3 separate regions of the Homo sapiens genome follow, and regions 1 and 3 are each linked to region 2. Evidence: fine-mapped expression QTL. A gene starts in region 2. Each other region holds a variant in brackets. All regions are shown on one strand. Distances are between the middles of the regions.

The links. PIP is the estimated chance that this variant, and not a neighbour inherited with it, causes the effect. A credible set is the group of variants that fine-mapping cannot tell apart.
Region 1: its variant is the best candidate, but not a certain one, in a credible set for the expression of BDH1 in liver (GTEx, PIP 0.71).
Region 3: its variant is the best candidate, but not a certain one, in a credible set for the expression of BDH1 in nasal epithelium (TOPMed, PIP 0.62).

The regions. Positions count from the first base shown.
Region 1 is chr3:197,589,756-197,595,991 of GRCh38, reverse strand. No RefSeq gene overlaps it. Among named protein-coding and RNA genes, the nearest start is that of BDH1, 37 kb to the right of the region's middle. The variant T/GTTTT (reference allele first, on the strand shown) is at 2,388.
Region 2 is chr3:197,552,988-197,559,223 of GRCh38, reverse strand. BDH1 (3-hydroxybutyrate dehydrogenase 1) reads left to right here and starts at 3,256. Exons shown (of 8, transcript NM_203314.3): 1 at 3,256-3,443; 2 at 4,511-4,662.
Region 3 is chr3:197,511,411-197,517,646 of GRCh38, reverse strand. BDH1 (3-hydroxybutyrate dehydrogenase 1) reads left to right here. Exons shown (of 8, transcript NM_203314.3): 7 at 3,231-3,383; 8 at 5,283-6,236. The coding sequence ends at 5,752. Among named protein-coding and RNA genes, the nearest start is that of LINC02012, 4.9 kb to the right of the region's middle. RefSeq lists an enhancer at 5,358-5,895. The variant A/G (reference allele first, on the strand shown) is at 2,641.

The DNA of each region.
Region 1 (6,236 bases), 37 kb before region 2:
CGTTGTGGGCACAGAGTTGTCAATGGGGAAAAGAACCCTTGATTCTCCCCTGTGAGGGCTTTTCTTTGGCTAGATATAGACTCTAAAGGAAATGAATGGAATTCTGGCTGTGTGCCCCTCACACTGCCCTCTTCTGCTGCTGTCTTTCTTCCACGAGGGAACTTTCGGGACTACTCAAAGTGCTCTCCCTCAAGCTTTATTTTGTATGCAACTTGCTGCCAGGAGAGTTGGAATTCATTCTACTCACATCACAGGGAGGAAGTGGAAGGAGTTCCTGCACCGGTAGACAGGAGGGCACAGCGGGAAGAGCTCACTTCACTCCCCAAATGGGTCAGTCGTGCATCCGAGCTCTGGAGCAAGCTGTTGCGGCCCATAGGGAGGGAGAATAGGAGGGAGAGTGACAGATGGAGACAAGAGAGCGTCAGGAACAGAAGTGGTCTACCTCCAAAACAGTGCTGGAGCTGCACTTTAGAATCACCTGGGGAGGTGTAAGATTTCTGACGACCAGGCCAAACCCTGGACCCATTAAATGAGAATCTCTGGGAGTGGCACCCAAGCATTAGCTTTTTTTTTTTTTTTTTTGAGACGGAGTCTCGCTCTGTTGCCAGGCTGGAGTACAGTGGTGTGATCTCAGCTCACTGCAACCTCCACCTCCCAGGTTCAAGCGATTCTCCTGCCTCAACCTCCCAAGTAGCTGGGATTACAGGCGCCCGCCACCACGCCCGGCTAATTTTTTGTATTTTTAGTAGAGACAGGGTTTCACCGAGTTGGCCAGGATGGTCTCGAACTCCTGACCTCATGATCCGCCCTCCTCGACCTCCCAAAGTGCTGGGATTACAGGTGTGAGCCACCGCGCCCGGTCTGGATTAGCATTTTTGACAGTTCCCTGGCGGTTCTAACTTGCAGCCAGGGCTGAGAACCATCATTCACTTTCTCCAGCAGCTGTTGTTTTCCTGCCTTCTCTCTGGATAACCGGGCATTAGGGGATAGGCCCCTTCTCATTTGTCCTAGTTTGTGTTTTCTTTACTCTTTTGACCTTTGAGGACCATGATATAGAGTCAGGGGCATCTTACGCTAAGTGAAAATTTAATCTGAACTTCTTTTGCTCCGGATCCCTTCTTTCCCCTCGGGTCCTGTATCTTTATCAAACACTGATTTGGAATCCCTGAAGAAATCATTGGTTTTATTATTCAATACTGAGATACAGAGATAGACCTATCATTTAGATTTGAATTCCCTGGTCATCTGTTTCCGCATGATGAATAAACGGGCCTGTGAATAAGACGATGCTCCAGACAGTAAGGAAAGAAAATCAGTCTCAACAGTAGAACAGACTTTAAATGTTGTACTGGACAAATGCAGCGACCCCTTTCAAACCTATGTCACCAGGGCCCTTCTACACAGCTGTTTTAAAGTTTGTCAGCCTATGGCATAAGATCGACCTTTCTCTCTCCTGCTGGATATGGTGTGATATTGTCTCTAGCTGAGTGCTATAGGGTGCCTCCTCTCTTGCTGACTACGAAGCCATTCTTGGAAGGTGTCTGGGGTTGAACTTGTGTAAAAGCAAGCCTGGGGCCAGGTGCAGTAGCTCGTGCCTGTGATCCCAGCACTTTGGGAGGCCGGTGGGTGGATCACCTGAGGTCAGGAGTTCAAGACCAGCCTGGCCAACATGATGAAACCCCGTCTCTACTAAAAATACAAAAAAAAAAAAAAAAAATTAGTTGGGCGTGGTGGTGTGTGCCTGTAGTCCCAGCTACTTGGAAGGCTGAGGCCGGAGAATCACTCAAACCTGGGAGGTGGAGGTTCCAGTGAGCTGAGATCGCGCCACTGCACTCCAGCCTGGGTGAAAAGAGCAAAACTCCATCTCAAAAACAACAACAACAACGATAACAGCAAAAAAAGCAAGCCCTGCTGTCGTGCCAGACCCCTGTTGACTGCAGTAGCGTTGGTAGTGTGTTCGAGACGCCAAAGAAGAGGCTGGGGGCCAGTGACTGAGACACAGGGCTTCCTGAGGGGACTTACATACAGGGCAGTCCAGTGGCAGCAGGCTGGACCAGAGAATGGCAACCACTCGTAAAAAGCATGCAGTTTATATAGCATTTTCACCTAGCACCCTCCCCCTAGCAACCTCCACCTGGCAACCTTCCTTTAACCCAAAACAAAGGGCCTGGATCCCCTCTATGGCCTCCATTCCACAGGATGGGCGGGGGGTTCAGATGCCCCTCGCAGATAAGGAATGAGTCTCCAGGTTGGCCCCATTTCCCGATTCCTTAGCTCAGAACTCCAAACACATTCTTTTTAGGCCTAGGGTCATTCTCAGGGTATGCTTAAGTTATTGCTGTCAGGTGCATCCTCCATACACCTGTGATTTGTTTGTTTGTTTGTTT[T/GTTTT]GTTTGAGACAGAGTCTCGCTCTGCCACCCAGGCTGGAGTGCAGTGGCACCATCTCGGCTCACTGCAACCTCTGCCTCCTGGGTTCAAGCGATTCTCCTGCCTCAGCCTCCCCCAAGTAGCTGGGATTACAGGCGCCTGCCACCACTCCCGGCTAATTTTTGTATTTTTAGTAGAGACAGGGTTTCACCATGTTGGCCAGGCTGGTCTCAAACTCCTGACCTCAGGTCATCCACCCACCTTGGCCTCTCAAAGTGCTGGGATCACAGGTGTGAGCCACCATGCCTGGCCTGTGATTTTGAAATCTTAAGGCACCTGGTGTGGTGGTCACCAGCTTCTGCCTAATGAGCAATCCCACCTCCGTGCGGAGACACAGCTCTCCTAAATCAAGTCTTTCTTAACAATTCTGAGCCCAGTTCCTCTTCCCCTCGCCCCTGTTCGTGGCAGGATCTGGAGTATTACGGACCACGAGAGATGCAGAAATGGAGCACAGGCGGTGAGCCAAGGACACCCGAGGTACGAGCTCTTGCCCTTCTCCTTCCCTGCCCTCTGCTGCCTGGAGATACGGCAGCCCAGCACCAGCCCCCCAGCTGCTTCCAGTGGAAAAATGCTGTGTCATTTCAGGGAGGGATTATAGTTTGAACTTGTATTGATTAAGTCTTTATGTGACGCTTCCAAATCCTTGTGTTTTTCCATAGACGTTGAGTTTTCCGTTTTCATCCCTAGCTAGATGGACTCACTATGAGCACCCCCCACTTCCAGGGCCAGGATGAGAGCCTCCCCCCTTCTTACAACATGTGAAATCATGAAGACCTCTGCCTTGGCCCAATTTCCCTAGAAAACAGAGCCTGAGGCAAAGCTTGTGTGCTTCTGGGCAGCGGGGCTGAGTTCCAGGAAAGTAAGAGTAAAGGACGAAAGGAAGTGAGTTCCAGGAAAGTAAGAGTAAAGGACGAAAGGAAGTGAGTTCCAGGAAAGTAAGAGTAAAGGACGAAGGAAGTGAGGAGGCAGCGCACGCACGAGGTGGGAGGTTAGCAAGCAGGCCGTGGCTTCCTCAGCACACGCCGCTGGTTGCTCACTCCTGGGGGCTTGATCAAGGAGCCTGGGCCTAGCAGAGTTCCCTTGGGGTGCTTTCTCAGGATGCCGAATTTAATACCCTGGTAAGGACCCCAGGTGATGAGACAAACTCAAGGGTGACTCTTAGAAGCCCGGAGAAAGTGGCAGCCAGTGTCAATGGCGGCAACGGACATGACTAAGTAGCCCTGGAAGATGGTAGTGAAAACACAAAAAGCCTGAGGAAAGTGGGCACGCTGGGATGGCTATGTCATCTGAGACCAGAAGAGCCACCGGGGGTGGGGGTAAGTATGAGGGGTGGGCCCAGAGAACAGGTGATTGACCACGACCATCAGGAATGCTCAGGTGAGAGGCACCAACCTCACTAAACAGGAGAGCTGGTCACAGAGCTGGGCTCACTGCTACCCATGGCAATGAAGCCCCTCTACCCCCAGGCATAGAGGCCAGGTGGTGGCCTTTGGCTTCCAGATGCCAGGAGGTCATAATGACCTGCAGAGTTAGTCATGCAGCCAACCAGGCCCGGCCCACAGGGAGTTGTGGTCCACAGAGCACAGCATCTCCCGGGGCAGAATAAATGGGCAACCTACACAGGTGCTGCCTAACGCCTCCAGCCAGCAAGAGGCACAAGTGGAGACGCAGGAGGCTCAGAGCCCTAATACAAACTTACAGTCCCTTACTCAGTTGTTTTGACCTAAGCCAATTTTCCGATCTGGAATCCATGGACTGAAGAGGTGGCTGGGTCTCTAAGAATGAACTCGGCAACACCGGCAAGAAAAGAGTGTAATGATTCCCCCAGTCTTTCCCTAGGGGGACCCGTGGCCGTGTACTTGGGTGACCGTACACGGAAGAAAAAGGAATCCCCAGATGTCCGGAGGGCTACTTGATGTAGTGACTGAGTTGAAACTGATACCTGGAGACCCAAAGCACCATTGTTGTCTCCTTGTTAGACTGAGGGGCTATGGAGGTCAGTCCATCAATGAAATCCTGCCTAAAGTCTGACACACGAGTGGCAGAATGGCCTGGAAGAGGCCGTCGTCAGCAAAGAGGACATTTACTCCAGGAGATAAAGCATTCAGGGCCGGGTGTGGTGGCTCATGCCTGTAATCCCAGCACTCTGGGAGGCTGAGGCGGGCGGATCACAACGTTGGGAGTTTGAGACCAGCCCGGCCAATATGGTGAAACTCCATCTCTACTAAAAACACAAAAATTAGCCAGGCGTGGTGGCTCACACCTGTAATCCCAGCTACTCCGGAGGCTGAGGCAGGAGAATCCCTTGAACCTGGGAGGGGGAGGTTGCAGTGAGCCGAGATTGTGCCATTGCACTCCAGCCTGGGCTGCAGAGTGAGACTCTGTCTCAAAAACAAACAAATAAACAAACAAACAAAAAACTTTCCCCACCTGAGATGGCTGCAGGGGAGCATAACAGTTCTGTTAGAGCAGGAAGGGGAGGGGGAATAGAATTTTTATTGTATTTTATTAGACATCTTCATTTTCTAAATTTTCTGAGATAAGTTCTCAAAATTAGTGTGAACCAGTCATCAGGAGCTCCTCATCTGGTGTGTTTTCCTGGATGTACAGTGCACATCCTGCAAAAGGATGCCCCCTTCAGAGAGGTGAGGTTCAAACTCCAGGGAATCAGCCCAAGAGCAGTTACCTCTTTGCAGAGGTGTGGAAAGTGGCAGGAGAAGAGACAGGCCCTGATGGCAATTCAGCAAACATCACCCATGTGCCAGGCACTGTGCCAAGCACCGGGATACAGAGATTAATCCAGCTGGTCTTTGAAGTCCAGAAGCCCCCAGACCAATAATCCATAACTAGCCATGGAGGACTTCTCACTAGGGAAGAGGCCACCTCTGCAGGCCTCTCTCAGAACTGGGGATGTGGGTGTTTACTCACTGCTGGGAAGGGCTGACCTTTGAGTTGTTTTCCTAGTCACAGAAAGTCCTCTGATCCACCACCTGCATGGGTGAGATTCGGCTGGGTCAGGGCAGAGCTCCTCCCTGAGCCTGCAGGGCGCTGGGCCTGCCATGTGTAACCCAGCAGAGCGGCTTCTCACCCACTGCCCAGGCTGGCAGCCTTCTAGGGAAATCTGTGAAGAAAACACATTTAGGGGTGTGACATATTTTCTCCTGGTTTCTGTAGGGTTCCTGCTACCTTGGAAACAAAGACAGAGAACTAACTGGCAGCCACTGGCTGAACAAAATTCCATGGGCCTGGAAAGGCAACTCTGATTGTGGTTGGGTAGCCCAGTGCCTGGCGCAACGCCTGCACAGTGAGACGCTTCTGGTTGCTGGTGTTGATGGAGGCTAGAGGCTGTTACAAGATGTGTCTGAGAAATTTCAGTGTATTTTTCGGTTATTGTTTTTCTTTTGAAGTACCAAATGCTCTGACAAATTTGAACAGACAGAAGTATGAGGTAAAAACTGCCCCATGTATCCCTTCTCTTAGTAACTCCCTTGTAATTCCTTCTAGAAAATTTCTTAGCAAATGTAAGCATAAACTTATATATATATTTATATATATATATATATTTATATATATATATATATTTTTTTATATATATATATATATATTTTTATATATATATATATTTTTATATATATATATACAGCTATAGATAGATATAGATATGTAGATGTACACACATACAGTTGGTCGTAGTATACATCAGATCCTTAATTAGCTTTTCTCAAAAATATCTATTAAAGATCTTTCACACACTCCTGTCACTCAAGAGACCGTCCCGCCTCAACCTCTCGAGTAGCTGGAACTACAGGCAC
Region 2 (6,236 bases):
GTTCAAGACCACCCTGGCCAACATGGTGAAACCCCATCTCTACTAAAAATACAAAAATTAGCTGGGCGTGGTGGCGGGCACCTGTCCCAGCTACTTGGGAGGCTAAGGCAGGAGAATCGCTTGAACCCTGGAGGCGGAGGTTGCAGTGAGCCGAGATCGCACCATTGCACTCCAGCCTGGGTAACAAGAGTGAGATTCCATCTCAAAAAAAAAAAAAAAAAAGTTCAATTGCCCACTTAGGATGGAAAGCAGGCTTTTGTGGATGCAAAGTCCAATCAGAGTTTGAGGCACTACTTTCTAGGAGAGGTTCTCGGGAGGGACAGCTTGACTAATACAATGGAGATCCATGAAGATACGTGAGGTCTCTTGCTGCTAGAGAGCGGTGCCAGTGTTGTGAGACAAGGCTTCAAAAACAGCTTCAAGGCTTCCAGAGAGTGGCCTCGCCACATCCTAAGCTCTCCAAGCGTCTGTCAAAATCCTGGGTTTCTATGTGTTTGGAGTCCAGTGGTTGAGGTCAGTAGCTCCCATGCGGGGTCTGATAAGGTGTGACATGACATTCCCTTGGCTAGGGAGAGTTCCCTGCATGTTCTAATCACAGTAAAACAATATCACTCTCACAGAAAAGTGAAAGTGTTCGGAATCATTTAAAGCTACATAACAAAATCCCAAGGAATTGGAGGGGAGGGCTGGGAAGAGTCAAATAGGGAAGGAGGGAAAGAGAATGGCATCCAAGGGTGTATTCGTGAGTTGATCAAGTCGGTCACTACTATGGGCAAACAGAATGCTATCATTTTAGGAGCTGCATAGAACATATCTCAGAATTGCCCACTGGAAGACTGGAAGAGCAGAGTATTTTTCCTGCAGTTCCTGCCTGCCCTTTGGTCAAAGTTTGTCCTTTGAGGTGTTCCTTTGCACTTCCAGGTTTACTCATGTGTCAGAGTGGACAGCGGATTCCTGCAAGGGTCCCAGGTTGCAGTGCCAGAGACGCAGAATACCAGGTGCAGCTGAGGCAAGGTGCTCTCAGGTTACACCTGTTCATACCTGGTTGTCACAGCAAAGCTGGGCTGGGAAGATGTAAGGCCAGATGTGTAATACAACCTCAGAAAGGTCAAATGTCCTTTTCTGTCTTATGCAAATAGGACTACAATTCAGTTTAATTCTCAGAGTCAGGATCTATGTTTTTTCCCTTGGGGTAAAGAAGAATTCTTCCTTTAACTACTTTTCTAGCAAAGCATAATCCTCAAGGCGTAATTTTAGTATAGTGATTTATTTTTAACCCTGTGGTACTATATGCCTAATGTTCTGAAACACCGTCACTGGAGCAAATCCAGGCTTGAGTCTATCTGTGAAACGGGAACAGAAAACTAAGTGCATCCTCCCTTCCTGATTCTCCCAGTCTTCAAGGCTGTATGTGCCAGGAGCTGGGGATAAAGGAGATAGCCTTAGCTCTCCAGAAGCTCACAGAATGGACAGACAGAGCCAACAGTTTTATTTGTTTGTTTGTTTTTTGAGACAGTCTCCCACTGTTGCCCAGGCTGGAATGCAGTGGCACCATCTCAGCTCACTGCAACCTCTGCCTCCCAGGCTTAAGCAATTCTTCTGCCTCAGCCTCCCACCTAGCTGGGATTACAAGCATCCACTACGAAGGGCAGGGTTTCACCACATTGGCCAGGCTGGTCTCAAACTCCTGGCCTAAAGTGATCCACCCGCCTCAGCCTCCTACAGTGCTGGGATTATAGGCGTGAGCCACCGCACCCGGTCTACAGTTTTCTTTAAATCTTCATCATGCCAGTACTTCCCTCCTCCTGTTTTCATCTTCCTGTATTTGCAAGTTTCATTCATTCTCTTCATTCTATTCATTCCTTCTCTGTACTTTACCTAAACATAGTTGTGAACCCCCAAAATCTGAGCCAGATCAATTTAGGAAGTTTATTTTCCCAAAGTTAAGAATGCACGCAAGTGAAATGGCCTCAGGAAGTCCTGACATGTGCCTAAGGTGGTTGGGACACAGCTCGGTTTTATACATTTTAGGGAGACATGAGACATCAATCAACATATGTAAGATGAACATTGGCTCAGTCTGGAAAGGTGGGACAACTCGAAGCAAGGAGGGAGCCCCCAGGTTATAGGTAGATGAGAGACAAATGGTCGCATTCTTTCGAGTTTCTGATGAGCCTCTCCAAAGGGGGAATCAGATATGCATTTATCTCAGTGAGCAGGGGGTGATTTTGAGTAGAATGGGGGCAGGTTGGCCCTAAGCCGTTCCCAGCTTGACTTTCCCCTTTAGCCTAGTGATTTGGGGGCCCCAAGGTTTATTTTCCTTTCGCGTAGCTTCGCCACTAATGTGTCCTGGTGTCTTCTCTCCTCAGCCTGTTTCTCATCCTGGAAACTGAGGTGTGCTGGCGCAGGGCGATAGCGCAGTGGGGTGGGGTTGGGAGGAAACCCTTATCTGTGGCCGATGGCCCTCCGTTGTTCTATTATTAAAACTCTGGGAAACTGCTATTCTTAATTTATTTTTAAAGACCCTGAGAAGCAAATCTTTAATTTTTTTGTTTTTGTGAGACGGAGCACTCTGTCGCCCAGGCTAGAGTGCAATGGTGCAATCTCGGCTCACTGGAACCTCCGCCTCCTGGGTTCAAGCGATTCTCCTGCCTCAGCCTCCCGAGTAGCTGGGATTACAGGCGTGCGCCACCGCGCCCTGCTAACTTTTGTATTTTTAGTAGAGACTGGTTTTCACCATGTTGGCCAGGCTGGTCTCGAACTCCTGACCCCAAGTGATCCACCTGCCTCAGCCTCCCAAAGTGCTGGAATTACAGGCGTGAGCCACCGCCCCCGGCCTTTAAATAAATTCATCTGATCAAAAGAAATTTAAAAACCAACCAACCCTAATGAGCTCTAAAGACAGCAACACGCACAGGACCTGGAAAGAGCCTCTTCCTCACCGGAGTTTTCCTCACTTCAAGGAGCGGCGCCTTCACCCTCCGGCCTCAGCCCGCGAGGCTGCAACCCTTTCCGCACCTGGCTCCATCTCCCTGGCCCTCGCCCCCGCCCAGCGGTCGGGGAGCGAGAAGGCGGCGGGGGATCTGGCGCCCGGCTTAGGGGCGAGACGGCCGCACCGGGAGCCTAGCGATCAGGGCACCTTGGGCGGGAGGAGCGCCAGCCGGGCACCCAGCGCGGAGGAGGCGGCTCGGCGGCCCCCCGACAGCCACGCCGCCGTGAGCCCCGCCCAGCGTAGCCCCAGCGCGCGCTTCGCGTGTAGAAGCGTCCGGGTGGCGGAGGCCGCAGGCCGCAGGAGTGCTGGTGGAGGGGCTTCCAGAAAGACCCTGCGGCAGCGCCCCCCCTCGGCTCTCCCCGCAGGAGAGCGGGCACCTGCGCGGCGCCGGGTGAAGGCGAGAGCCTCGGCGAGCCCTCTGCAGCGGAGCCCCCTGCCCATTTGGTTTTGGGTAAGAGGAGGGGTCCGCGTCTCTGCAGCTCGGGCGGGATTCCCTGGCGCCCTCTACTCGGTTTGGTTCGGCCTCACGTGTTCCTTTAGCTCCGAAGCCGGGATACGGGTGGGGAAGGGGGGCTCGCGCCCTACAGGCCGAGCCCTGCGGCCGCAGCGGGGTAAGGGTAGGATGGCCGATCGCGCCCAGACCCCAGGGAGTCTCCCTCTCGGCTTTTCTGCCGGCGTCTCCAGCAGCATGATCTGGCATTTATTATTCGGAATAATGTGCCAGGCAGGAGGAGGCCCTGGGTTAAACACGCGGCCCTGCAGCTCCCAGGTGAAACGACTCATCGTTTCCTGCCGGCGCATCTTACTGAAGGGGACCCAGGCCCCACGAAGGGAAGGAACCGTCCTCAAGGTCACGTCGTAGTCAAAGGCCGAGCCCAGACCGAAGCCAGGTGTCCTGCCTTCTAGCCCCGGGCTCTAGGCCCTGTCCCCTTCCCGACCGAATCTCCCAGTCCCGTCCGCGTCCCTCCTCCTCCTCCTCCTCCGGGGTCCTCCGCAAGGCTCTGTTCCCGGGGTTTGGGGAGTCCTCCCTCCGCGCCACAGCGCCCTGGGGAAGAATGCTGGACAGCAGGCAGGCCACAGGGCCGGGGAAGGAGGAGGAGCCGCGGGGACAGGCTGGGGATGCCAGAGTGGTGGTGGGCCCGGGACTGGCCAGGGTGGGAGTCCAGGCGGCGCACCCGCGCGAGGACAAGGGGGCTTTGGCTGGGCGGTGCTGTCTCAACCAATGGGAAGCGTGGCTCTGGCCGAGCCCCCCTCTCTCCCCGCCCTCCGGCCGGCCGTTGGGGAGCGCTGCTCTGGGATTGGCTGCGCCGCCGTCTCGGGCGTTCTCGCGCTCTGCTTACGTGCTGACGCGCGCCTGATAGATACCCTGTGGGTTTGAGCGCTCCGGTCGGTCCCTAGCGGCCCAGGCGCCTTGGGCGTGCGTCCTGCGCGCGGCCGCCTCCAGGCTGCGCCCTTCTGGGGAAGTGTTTGGTGCTGCGCGCGGCGTCGAACTCCGCGTTTTTTTTTTTTCTTTTCCAGCCAGTCAGCCTGGAAATCTGCCTGTAGTCAGCTGATGCAGAGTCACCCTGCAGTTCCTACTTTGAGGGGTTGCAGAAGCACATATTTCACTATGGAGGGCCGCCTGCAGGCCTCGCGCTGACAGGATCTTTTGTGACGCTGCAAATGTCCTGGTCAGTGTCCTTCTTTCTACAAGAGGCGTTGGAGCCGGGCTCTGCATAGGGCGTATATATCCCTGGCCGCCAAGGAAGCTGACCCTTGAAATTTGTGAAGCTTTCATATTCACTCAATACACATTTACAGAGCCTCTACTTCCTGTCAGGCGTCACACAATAAATATTCGGAGGAGCAAGAAGAGAGTGATTCAACATTTGGGTCTTGTCTGTAGGGTGCTCACAGTCCGGGTGGGGATTGGTGGTAGGATGGGGGCTTGTGAATGTTTATAAACAGAAATCCCTCGAATACGACCCTGGCTAGGTAGGTGCAGTTACAGAGGCACAGAAGGGAGGAGATTGGGCGAAAGATTTTTGAATTAGGGGATTAGAAAAGGCTGCTCGGGAGAGTTATCTGAACCAGCTAGGACTTGGTCAGATGCAGTCAGTTTGGTATAGGATGAGCAAGGCTCGAAAATTGGAAAGTACAGGGCTTGTTGAGGGATGGTGTAGCAAACGGTTGAATGAGTAGAGGAGAAAAGTATAGTTGGAGATACGGTTTGGAGGAGCCAGGTGAGGACTCGGGGGCTCAGCTTGTGTCCTCGGGTTTGAAATGCAGTAAGCACTTGTGAATAGAAAGGCTGCTTAATCATTTGCACTACTGTCATTTGTTACACCTAGACCAAACATCTTGGAAATGGCTTTGATTCTTCCTTCTTTCATATCCTACACTCAATCTGTTGGTAAATGGTAGCGGACTCTACCTTCAATATAAAGCCAGACTTACCAATTCTAATCAGTTCCATGGTTTTCACCAAGGCTGGTGTACATTTCTAAGGAACACGTTTTCACATCTCACTGCAGTGGTGCAATATACAACCCTCATGACTGCACATGGTGGCCCTGGATTACTGCCACAGATCCTAATGGGTCTCCCTGCTTCTGCTCTAGTCCATCCTCAACTTATTAACCCAGTGAGAGTTACCTTTTTAAAAATGTAAGTCTGATAATGGCACTCCTCTTCTTAAAACTCTTCTTTTTTTTTTTTTTTTTTTGAGACAGAGTCTTGCTCTGTTGCCAGGCTGGAGTGCAGTGGCGTGATCTCGGCTCACTGCAATCTCCACCTCCTGGGTTCAAGTAATTCTCCTGCCTCAGCCTCCCAAGTAGCTGGGACTACAGGCGCGAGCGACCACACCCAGCTAATTTTTGTATTTTTAGTAGAGACGGGGTTTCACCATGTTGGCCAGGATGGTCTCGATCTCTTGACCTCGTGATCTGCCCACCTCGGCCTCCCAAAGTGCTGGGATTACAGGCGTGAGCCACCACACCCAGCCAAAACTCTCTTAATTCATTTAATTATGTACCAGCCAGGCGTGGTGGCACACACCTGTAATCTCAGCACTTTGGGAGGCCGAGGTGGGCAGATCATTTGAGGTTAGGAGTTTGAGACCAGCCGGGCCAACATGGTGAAACTCCGTCTCTACTAAAAATACAAAAATTAGCCAGGCATGGCGGTGCATGCTTGTAACCCCAGTTACTTGGGAGGCTGAGGCAGGAGGATTGCTTGAACCTGAGAGGTGGAGGTTGCAGTGAGC
Region 3 (6,236 bases), 42 kb after region 2:
CCATAGAGCAGGAAGTGACTGATTGGGGGGGTCGGCCTGAGGGGGGATGGAGACCATAGAGCAGGAAGTGACTGATGGGGGGGTCGGCCTGAAGGGGGATGGAGACCATAGAGCAGGAAGTGACTGATGGGGGGGTCGGCCTGAAGGGGGATTGAGACCATAGAGCAGGAAATGACTGATGAGGGGGTCGGCCTGAGGGGGGATGGAGACCATAGAGCAGGAAATGACTGATGGGGTGGGGGGGTCAGCCTGAGGAGGGGATGGAGACATACAGCAGGAAGTGACTGATGGGGTCGGCCTGAGGGGGGGATGGAGACCATAGAGCAGGAAATGACTGATGCGGGGGTCGGCCTGAGGGGGGGATGGAGACCATAGAGCAGGAAATGACTGATGCGGGGGTCGGCCTGAGGGGGGATGGAGACCATAGAGCAGGAAGTGACTGATGGGTCTGCCTGAGGGGTGGGGTGAAGACGGAGGTGGAGGAGTGAGTGAGACAAACAGACCCAGGAGGCTTCTCCAGCAGCCCAGGAGACAGGCAGCGAGGACCCAAGGGAATGCTAGTGGAAACAGGAAGGAAGAACTGACCCAGCAGAGGAAACCAGCAACAGCCTGGGGCGTGGGGACTTTGTCCTCAGAGAGATCTGGGTCCAAATCCCACCCTCCCTGCCTGTTAGCTGGGTGACATTGACCAAGGTGCTTAACCTCTCTGAGCTTCAGTTGCCTCAACCGGATATGAGACAATTTAGGATCTATTTTCCAGGGTGGTTGTGAGGATCAGGGAAGTTAATGAATGTAAAGGGCTTGATTAGGGGTCTGCCAGCTGTCATGTTGATCTTGAGCTGTAATATTAGCAGTACTGGGTGACTCAGTAGGTGGGGGAGGGGTGGAGGAGCTGGAGGAGTCACAGACAAAAGTAAAATCATTAACAAAGAGGAGGAGCAGGCTTGGGCAGCTTGGAAACTTGACGTGTTGGTTGTGGTTAGGGTGAGTCAGGGACCCGTGGGACATTCAGGTGGAAGCGAGACAGGAGATGGGATGAGGAGAGAGAGCCGTGACTCCCAAGGAGAACTGAGGGGCCACTGGTGCGGAGGCGATCTTGGGGATGTTACAGGAAAGTTGCTGTCACCCAACCAGCGGGCATGCCTCCGTGAGTTTATTCAGAACATTGGCTGAGGATTCCAGATGGCAACTAGGTCCACCACTCTCAACACTCATTAAAGCTGTAATCCAGGGGCTGTGCACTTTCACAGGTCATGTTTCATTAAACTTTTTTGGATAGTAGCGTCAAATGTCATTGTTTTATTTTTAGGTAGAGAAAGGGCTGTATGCATTTTAAGTCATGGGATATTGTCCGTTATGAATCAAACACAAAACGGCTGCAAAATTCACAAACATGAAGAAGATGAGGACACCTAAGAGTTAAGTGTACTTTGAGAGGAGCAGGATTAGGCCAGGACATTGGGGGCCACTTGTATCTGGGGGCAGGTGAAAGAAAGGTGTCAGGGAAGATGCAGGAGATGCCTGGGTATCACTAATGCTGAGGGAGAGGTGAGCCTCAAGGAGTACTGGCAGTACTCATATCGTAGCGAGCCTGAGGAGAGTGAAGACTGGGGGTGAGGTCCTTGGTGTACCACCCTGGAGACCCTGGAGACTGCGTGGTCAGGACAGCTGAGGGCTGGGACCCAGTGTGGTATGGAAGGGAGATGGAGAGGATAGAGCGCGCGCGCGCGCGTGTGTGTGTGTGTGTGTGTGTGCGTGCTCTGTCACCCAGGCTGGAGTGCCGTGGCATGATCCGGCTCATTGCAACCTCTGCCTCCTGGGTTCAAGAGATTTTCCTGCCTCAGCCTCCCGAGTAGCTGGGACTACAGGTGCCCGCCACCACACCCGGCTAATCTTTGTATTACAGGATAGAGTTCTTGGAAGCCTGGCGTGGAGGGAGGGAGAGCAGGTAGCACAGTTACAGAAGGATCTTCGGGATATGGAAATGCGGTATTTGTGGACACTCATTCATCTAACACACATTTGTTGAGCTCCTAATGTGTATAGAACTGAAGGGATGGAGTCATGGGCAGTGGAAAAGCTGAAATTGTGTAAAAGAGAGAGAAGGATCAGTGGCTATGGTCTCGAAGATGACGTGGAAGTGTCAGCCATGACGGGTGGGGAGTGGCCTGCTGCTCCTCCTGGGAAGAGAAGAAGGTGAAGACTCAGGGCGCGTCTGCAGGGAGACAGTGGGAGCTGTGGGGTCGTGGATGACGCTGATCCTGTCATTAGCATCTGAGCGAGGTCACAGGTGAGACCTAGAGCAGGGAGACACCCGCAAGGCTTTGGTGGAGAGTGGGAGTGAGCTCTTCATGGACACTCTGTTAACCAGCAATTTCCTTTCCCTAATAAATGCCCTTAATTCTCCATAATTGAAGGAGAAGGCACCAGAGGGCAGTGAATGAAGCTTTAATTTGGGTAACACGGAAGGAAAGCAGCTAGAGACCAATTACTCTGTCATTTACACAAACTCATTTCCATGATTAACTTGGAAAATAAAGCAGCGCCGAGTTCCCACAGGCAGGGGAGGGCCCCAGGATGGGAGCTCTGCTCTGAGGCTGTGCCTTGGGAAGGAGCACGGGGCTATCGGCCCGGGAGACC[A/G]AACACTGAGGGTTTCCACAACAAAGAGGCAGGGCCCAGCTCTGTCCTGAGGCTCTGACCCATCCAGCCTTTGCACCCCAACAAACTGAACTCAGAGAGGTCCCTGCAAAACACAGCTGCCTCCTCGTGCCCACCTCCCCTGTGATTTCCCTGGCTTCTGGCAAGAGAAGAGAAGACGTGAGCAAAAGCTCAAGGGCAGAGATGAGTAAACAGGAACGGGGCGTGAAACTCAAACTCAGGGTGTGGGGATGGGATGGGGTGGAGTGGAGTGGAAGTGGGAATTTGAGGTGAGGTGAGACTGAAGGCCGGGGGACACGGCAGGCTGGGTCATGATGGGCCCAGAGACTCGAGCCAGGCAGATGTGACGTGAGGACTGGACATTCTAGACGCAAGGGAGGGCTGCAGTCAGCACTTTAGGCCTCTTTACCTCCTGTCGTTCCTGAGTGACTCTAGAAAGTTTCTTGAGAGCACTGGGCGAGAGGCTGGGAAGTCACAGGAAAGAAGCAGAGAGGAGGCTGGCCTGCAGGCTGATGGGCAATGTCTGGGCCAAGCCCATGTGGTAAATGCACATCTATCCCTCTCCTGTCCAGGCATGTGGGGCCTCGTTAACAATGCCGGCATCTCAACGTTCGGGGAGGTGGAGTTCACCAGCCTGGAGACCTACAAGCAGGTGGCAGAAGTGAACCTTTGGGGCACAGTGCGGATGACGAAATCCTTTCTCCCCCTCATCCGAAGGGCCAAAGGTGAGTGGGAAAGGGAGCTCCCTCCTGCCCCTGAACCTGCCCCACGTGTTCATCTTTGCTCAGAATGGAAATACCTGTCCCAGCAGCTCCAATGTCCACAACTCAGCAGAGGTGAGCTCGTGAATCCCAGGGACTATGCTGGGCCTGGGGTGATGGTGGGCAGAGGGGCTGTGGCCGGGTAGGGGAGGAGGAAGCAGAGCAGGTAAGAGGTCAGTGGTCCATGCAGCAAAAGCTTAAAGAGTTGAGCAGCCATCCACTCTGCACACCTAATCTATAGAGAGAATCACCCTTTGCACAAAGCTGTGTGTACACATCTTTGTATCAGTCAGGTGTGGTTAGTAAAATCTGGCATATTCATTCTATGGGTTATTTATATCGTAGTTTAAAAAATGAGATCATTGTGGTATTAGGGAACAATAGTAAAAATCAAGATTAGAAATTTGGAAAACCAACAAAACACCCAAACCATGTGGGTGGCCAAATGTGAGCAAACCACTTTAGAAGTCATTGACTTGGATTTTTTTCTCTGGCATAGCAAACAATTGTGGCAAAAAGGGTAAGATCCATACATCTATGGTGAAGTCCTAGCAACAACAAGCATGAACACAGACTGCAGCTGTAGGATTTTAGATGGAAACCCCAACCCTTCAGTGACTTCAAATTTAGAGCTTTCTGAAAGGTGCCTCCCCCAGGATGGGCTGAGTTCCCTCCCGGGGACACACCTGGATGGGCTGAGTGCCCTCCCGGGGACACACCTGGATGGGCTGAGTGCCCTCCCGGGGGCACACCTGGATGGGCTGAGTGCCCTCCCGGGGGCACACCTGGATGGGCTGAGGGCCCTCCCGGGGGCACACCTGGATGGGCTGAGTGCCCTCCCGGGGGCACACCTGGATGGGCTGAGTGCCCTCCCGGGGACACACCTGGATGGGCTGAGTGCCCTCCCCGGGACACACCTGGATGGGCTGAGTTCCCTCCCAGGAAAACTGGTCCCAGATCCGCCTCGGCTTCCCGGGCTGGGCCAAATGCAATCCACTTCCAACCCCTCTGTTCCCAGGGCCAGGAGGAGCTGTGGGAGGCCCCTGATGCCCCCAGGCTGGGCCTGTGGCCTTTGGAGGGGGATCACCACACTCTCCCAGTGCCCAGGACTCTCTCCTCATATCCTAGCCCTGAAGTCAGGTTCAGAAATCCTGCCCCTGCCCCTGCCTGCTGCTCTGTTTGCCAGGCGGTCCTGGTCTCCACCCAGGCTCCACCCTACCAGGGTGGAATGGAGTTGGGGAGTTGGGCCTAACAGCACGGGTCCTGTCCTCTTTCAGGGCTGTCCCGGGGCTCCCTCCCAGCTGCAGCCCCAGGTACTTCCTCGTCTGCACTCCAACCCCCATCGCCAGGGCTGCTGTCAGTGGCTAGACACTTGGCCCTAGTGTGCTACTTATCTGCACGTCGTACTACTGGAGCTGGACTTTAAGCTCCATAAGGGGAAGGGGAAGCTTTCAGGCTGTATTTCTCCCTCACCAGCACCAGACCTTGCCTATAGTGAAAGCTCAGATCCACACAGACAGCTGTCTCGCCTCCCACTTCTCCCCTCGTGTTTTCACCCCAAATTATCACCGCATCGGGCTTGATCTGGTTTTTGAGTCAGTTGCGTGTTGCCCATTACACTGTGCCCTGCTGCTTCTCACTCACTTGTCCTCCCCTGTCCTGCCTGGCACAGCCAGGTTCCCAGGGAAGACCAGGGGTGCCGATGCTGATGCGTGGGCCTGAGCTGGCCTTGCCTATTGACTGAGAAGGCTCCTGGGTGGCTCAGAAGTGGTTCCAGCCAAGCCTCTAGAGACATGCCAGACTTCTGCCCGCTGTGTCATAGGGCAGTAACGGCTTAGCAGGTACCTCTGTCTCCCTCTGTAGGCCGCGTCGTCAATATCAGCAGCATGCTGGGCCGCATGGCCAACCCGGCCCGCTCCCCGTACTGCATCACCAAGTTCGGGGTAGAGGCTTTCTCGGACTGCCTGCGCTATGAGATGTACCCCCTGGGCGTGAAGGTCAGCGTGGTGGAGCCCGGCAACTTCATCGCTGCCACCAGCCTTTACAGCCCTGAGAGCATTCAGGCCATCGCCAAGAAGATGTGGGAGGAGCTGCCTGAGGTCGTGCGCAAGGACTACGGCAAGAAGTACTTTGATGAAAAGATCGCCAAGATGGAGACCTACTGCAGCAGTGGCTCCACAGACACGTCCCCTGTCATCGATGCTGTCACACACGCCCTGACCGCCACCACCCCCTACACCCGCTACCACCCCATGGACTACTACTGGTGGCTGCGAATGCAGATCATGACCCACTTGCCTGGAGCCATCTCCGACATGATCTACATCCGCTGAAGAGTCTCGCTGTGGCCTCTGTCAGGGATCCCTGGTGGAAGGGGAGGGGAGGGAGGAACCCATATAGTCAACTCTTGATTATCCACGTGTGGATTATCCACCATGCCAGGAAGACCCATAACTGGTTTTAACACTAACTAGAGGGAATGACTTCTTTGCATAGTGAGTGACTTGGGCCTTCACAAACAGGGTGTGGAGTGGCAGGCAGAGGCCTCTAAATCTCAGGGCAAACATGGTGAATCTATCTCTCCGGAGATAATTTCATACAGAGATTTTAAGAAAACATCTTTATATTAAAAACAGATCTCATTTGATCCTTAAGCCAGTCTCATGAATGAAAAGGACAGGTTTTTTTCTTTTGTAAATGAAGCATTTGCAGCTTAAAGAGGATGCATGAAATAACCCTTTTATCGCTTATAAATAGTGCCAGTTATGTGTTCCTGCCACGGCTGTGGAAATACTTCACATTTGCATTCCAGGACTG